2 separate regions of the Homo sapiens genome follow, and region 1 is linked to region 2. The links come from fine-mapping of genetic effects on gene expression. A gene starts in region 2. The other region holds a variant in brackets. All regions are shown on one strand. Distances are between the middles of the regions.

Region 1 (2,816 bases), 300 kb before region 2:
ACAGCAGGACTGCTGCCCAGGCAGATGTCTAGCCAGTAAACATGACATTAGTGATCCCCTTAGCACCCCCAACTCTCCTTTGGCTTGGAGGAGGGAAAACCCCTGTTCCTGGTCCTGCTCCTGGGAATATGCTCACAAGGAACTCTGTACCTCCTCCAGGCTGAAAACTCTGAGCCCCTTATTCCAGCCCAGACTTCTCCTTACAGACCCAGGACAGGGGCAGGGTTGGTGGTATTAAGGCCAGTTCTGCCACTGCATTGCTGAAGGCTGGTTAAGAGCTCTCTTTAGAAAACCAGAGTGCTTAGCACTTTCTGGGTCACCTTTGGGCAATGGCAGCCATTCCAAGACAACAGAACAAAATCTCACTCACACCCTATTACATAGAATTCTAATTGTGAGATGTGTGAGAAAGGAAAAGAACAGGGTGCTATGAGAGGAAATGCCCATGCTCAGGATCACACTTCTGGATCTCAAATCCCAGCTCTGCCCCTTATTAACTGTGTGATCTTGGGCAGGTTACTTCGCCTCTCTGTGCCTCAGCTTCCTTATTTGTAAAATGGTGATGATAACAGTACATACCTCATAGGACGAAATGAGAAAATGTAAACAAAACTCTTAACATAGCGCCTGTCACATTAATAAATGCTCAGTAAACGTAAGTTCCCTGAGGGATCCAGGCACCTCACAGGCACCCAACAACACTTGATGAAATAATGAATGAGGTAGTGAGACCCCATCTCTACAAAAAATTAAAAATTAGCCAAATATGGTGGCACATGCCTATAGTTCCAACTACCTGGGAAGCTGAGGTAGGAGGATCACTTGAGCCCAAGAGGTTGAGGCTGCAGTGAGCTGTGATCATGCTACTGTACTCCAGCCTGGGCAACAGAGCAAGACTCTGCCAAAAAAAAAAAAAAAAAAAAAAACACAGAATTACACTTACACATAGATTTTCTTTCTTTCTTTTTTTTTTTTTTTTTTTTGAGTTGGAGTCTCGCTCTGTCGCCCAGGCTGGAATGCAGTGGCGCGATCTCGGCTCACTGCAAGCTCCGCTTCCCGTGTTCACGCCATTCTCCTGCCTCAGCCTCCTGAGTAGCTGCGACTACAGGCGCCTGCCACAGCGCCCGGCTAATTTTTTTTGTATTTTTTTTAGTAGAGACGGGGTTTCACCGTGTTAGCCAGGATGGTCTCAA[TCTCCTGAC/T]CTCGTGATCCCCCTGCCTCGGCCTCCCAAAGTGCTGGGATTACAGGCGTGAGCCACCGTGCCCGGCCTACACATAGATTTTCAATCCATATTAGAAAGGCTAACAAGGGCCATATTATGTGTAGTTTGAGAAAAGAGAGGGCAGGAATATATCTTACTTCTGTAGATTCAGTGCCTACCACGTAGTAGAAGCTCAGTCAATCTTTTTTTTTTTTTTTGCGTTGAACTGAAAATAATTATGTTATGCTGAAATCCCTCCCATGGAACCCAGGGGATATTGGTGAAATTAAACCACATAAAACTTGAGTAGTGTTAATGTTTTGTTCATAACTTTCATGAATTTTGCATATATTTCATGGCATTTACATTAAATTCATAAATAAAATCTTAAAAAATAATAATGAATGAGGGAGAATGGCTGGGAATACCTATTTTAGATGGGGTAGTCAGAGAAGACCACTCTGAGAAGGTGACACTTAAGCTTTGACATAGATGATAAGACAGAAGTCAGCTGAAGAGCAAAGGGATCATATTGCCCTGGAATCAGATTACAGAATAGACCTAGAAAATTCGCCTTTGACATTTTAATACCATGTATAAATACAGGGTTATAAGATATTATTCCCTCTGGACCAAAGATTGTCATAACACCCAGGAGCCAAAGTCCTCCAGATACCTCTGTCTCCATCACAGCAGCTCTAACTGTGCAGTTATTTGCCACCAAGGCAGTTCCTTTGGGGGTTTCTTTCCATTTTTTTAAAGTTGTTAGTCAGGACTTTGGTAGCAATGAGCTCAAGATCCTGGCTAGATGGTAAGTCAGATTTCACATGATCTAAACAGTCAGAGCCAGAGAGTGTCAGCTACCACAAGGAAGAGAGTATATCATAAATCCAGAGTAGACATATGAACAAGCAGTTTATAGACTGGGCTTACCCAAAGATTAATTTTGAAGGTCATATCATCCAACAGAGTACATAACTGGACACTTGAGTCTGTGCATGTCTCTGGTTACAGCTGGTTTTAGTTACTTTGAGTCTGGTCAGCATTATAAATGGTCAGCATTATAAATGGCTGGGATAAAGTATCTGCCGGAGGAATTGGCATAAGCATGTGACTCACCAGCCCCTCTGACTCATGGGACACACAGTTGTCCTGAGCTATTAATCCATTGACAGAGCATGAGTGAGACAGAGGGGCTGTGAGAAGCTGTACTGACAAATAGCCGGAAGCACCCACTGCCCATCGTTATGACTGTATCCTTTTGTGATATGGAGCATCGATATCTTTTGTTGCTGTGATAGGAAGTTTTTGGCATAGGTGTGGCCTGATCATTGTTTTCAAGCACACTAAACCTAGATGGTGATATAATGGAATTGTTGACACTGTTCCCAAGACAGCAGGATGTCTCCACCCTGGTTTGATGGTGTTCATTTAGATAAATAAGGGCTGGGATACTGTGCTAGGAGTCAGAAAGGCAGTGTGGTGTAGGTGCCTATTGTTGTAGGTGGTGGTATCAGCAAGGGGAGTTCATTACATGGTGCCAATTAGAATGTCCAAGGAGGTTGGTTTCCATGTTAAATAGGATTGACCTTTCTGTCACCCAGAAGCCCAAGTG
Region 2 (2,816 bases):
GCCGCCTTCCTCTTGCCCTCGTTGGTCTTCCTCTCTGAGGGGTTTTCTTTGGGCGGTGCGCTTTGGGGAGGCGGGGTCCCAGCGGCTGGGCCGGACGCACGCTCCCGGGTCCGCCCCCGGTTCCGGGCCCGGGGCTTGGACTCCCCCGCGAATCCCGCGACGGTGGGGCGTGCGGGCGGGGACGCGCGGGGCACTAGCCGCAGCTCGGCGCCGTGGCCCTTCTTGCCCGCGCACAAGCGGGCCTGGAGCGGCGCGGGGTCGTGACAGGGCCTCCGCTTCTTGCGCAGCCCTCCCAGCACCTGCTTCCAGAAGTGCGCGCGGCGAGCGGCGTAGGCTGCGCAGCGCTCCGGATGCCCGCGGTAGGCGCACTGGTGGCGCGCCCCGTCCGGGCTCTGGCAGCGCAGCGCCAGCTCGCTGCCCGCTGCGGCCTCCGGGGCGGGCAGCAGGAGCTGCCAGCTGCACGCGTGCTGCTCGGGGCTGAGGAAGCGACCCGAGGAGCCGCCAGTGGGCCCGGGGACCGGCTCCGCCACGTTGCTAGCCGCCCCTTTCTCCCTCCGAGCAGCCGCGAGGAGGCAACCACTCAGCAGCAGCAGCAGCGACGGCGACAGCGACGCTCGCAGCTTCGGAGGAGTCATGCTCCGCGGTTTCCGCGCTCCGCTGTTCTCAGACCACGTTTGTCGGGGCTGGACCAGGCAAAGAGCATTCCCCAGGACCTGCGGACAGAGGCAGAGACTGCCACCAACTGAGCCACACGCAGCGCTTCGCCCAGACACATGCACCTGCGAACTACTCTTCCGCAGACTTTCTAGAATCTGCAGCCTGCGAGGAGACCCTCTGAGGAGCTTTCCTGGGGAAACTGCTTACTGTCTAAATAATCACTTTCGAACCATGTATGCATTGAGATTTTCTTCCCCTTGCAAATACGATAGCAAAACGATGCGTGATAATTGCCCCCTCTACCCCTTCCTTCATTTTCTCCCTTCTCCAACCTGCAATAAACTATCTACAAAATCATTTCAGATGATTCCTTGGAAACATGCACTTTACTACACTTTGAACTTACCGAGTTCTGGGAGAGGCGCCAAAGCCTTATTAGGGTAGAGGGAACGACTGCACGGGGGAGTAGTCTGTTTTAGCCGGCTCCCTGTGAATGAACGTGGTATCAATGGAACAGAAGAGGCCTACCCTTCTTCGCCCCTCCCCGATTTCTCTCACACTGGGAGACTTATCACCGCCGCGCTTCTCTCTCTCTCTCCCTCTCTCTCTCTGTCTCTCCAGATGGATGATGGAAGCGGTCCTGTAGTATGAAATACAAATCTTGTATTTTGCTTCCAATGTTTAAAATAATCAGGCAAAATTAACCAAGTTTTTCTTCTTTCATGTACTTAACCATCCAAAAAATAAAAATTAAACAAAAGATCTAAGTTTTAAAAGTTAAATAAAATGAAACAAAACAAACTTCAGTATTCTAAACTAGGCATTTTTTACACAATTATATCATTTACATTCTATTTCTCATATTCTGAGTTCTACATTTTTACCTATTATTTCCAATAGCCTTTCTTAAGACTCTCAATCTTAATAATTGTTACTACTAATAAAAATATAATATCCTAGTTTATTAACATACAATAGTGCCCAGCAGTTCACCCAGGAGTGGACATTTGGGCTTTTTATTATTTTTAGGTATTAGAAATCAGTTATAAGGGTCCTCCAAAAATTAGAAGTTTAAAAAAATTATTTGTATTATAGTAGTTGAACGGTAAGATTACCAATTGAAATGGTATAATAGTTAAGAATGTGAGACCAGCCTGGCCTGGTGAAATCCCGTCTCTACTAAAAATACAAAAATTAGCCAGGCGTGGTGGCAGATGCCTGTAATCCCAGCTACTCAGGAGGCTGAGGCAGGAGAATCACTTGAACCCGGGACAGGGCGAGACTGCCTCTCAAAAAAAAAAAAAAAGAGAGAGAGAATGAATGTGTTCTTGAATCTTGAAAATGTTACATTTAAGCAAAGCTGCTTTTTCTGGAGGGGGGGATTGTGTGTGTGTGCGGGGGTTTGTTTGTTTGTTTGTTTGTTTGTTTGTTTTGAGACGGGAGCTCACTCTGTCACCCAGGCTGGAGCGCAGTGGTGCTATCTCGGCTCACTGCAACCTCTGCCTTCCCGGTTCAAGCGATTCACCTGCCTCAGCCTCCCCAGTAGCTGGAATTACAGGTGCCTGCCACAACACCCAGCTAATTTTTAGTGGAGAAGGGGTTTCACCATGTTGCCCAGTCTGGTATCGAACTCCTGACCTGAGATGAGCCACCTGCCTCAGCCTCTCAAAGTGCTGACCAAGCAAAGCTGTTTTTTCTTTCTTTTTTTTTTTTTTTGCTCTTTTTAAAATTTTTATTTAGAAGCCTACTTGTAGAAGTTAGCATAATTTTACAGATTATTAGAAAAATTCAATTATTTTCTCTCTGCAAACAGTTATAATAGGTTAGGAATAATAGATTAGAAATGTACTACATTGCAAAAACAGTGGCCTATAACTATCTGTACATTTACTGTGCACCTTAAGGAAAAGAATTTGACAGTGTGCTATACTTACACTGCAGGTAACATATTTTTATTCTATCACACAAAACTGACCAGTGGTAGTGCTTGAATTTATAAATGGCCATTAAACAGAATATTTAAACTGAGATGTATATTTAGCATGCTAAAAAGTGAAAAAAATTTCAACTGAAGTTCTGTGGCTCATCAGTTCAAATGTTTCATGGCATTTTTTTCTTTAAACGAAAAATTTTGATATTGTAAAACAAATAATTTTACA

Direction of the effects. Positions count from the first base shown, and alleles are read on the strand shown. Sizes are in standard deviations (SD) of each study's normalised expression.
For the expression in tibial artery of the gene that starts at base 1,152 in region 2, T is the high allele of the variant in region 1 and TCTCCTGAC is the other (small effect, 0.19 SD a copy in GTEx).

The links.
Region 1: its variant is fine-mapped to the expression of FGFBP3 in tibial artery (GTEx, PIP 0.98).

The regions. Positions count from the first base shown.
Region 1 is chr10:91,611,492-91,614,307 of GRCh38, forward strand. No RefSeq gene overlaps it. Among named protein-coding and RNA genes, the nearest start is that of HECTD2-AS1, 1.4 kb to the left of the region's middle. The variant TCTCCTGAC/T (reference allele first, on the strand shown) is at 1,194.
Region 2 is chr10:91,908,335-91,911,150 of GRCh38, forward strand. It overlaps FGFBP3 (fibroblast growth factor binding protein 3), which reads right to left and starts at 1,152. Exons shown (of 2, transcript NM_152429.5): 1 at 1,064-1,152; 2 at 1-713. The coding sequence starts at 635. It overlaps FGFBP3-AS1 (FGFBP3 antisense RNA 1), which reads left to right. Exons shown (of 2, transcript NR_199602.1): 2 at 563-1,014. RefSeq lists a silencer at 25-594 and an enhancer at 498-792.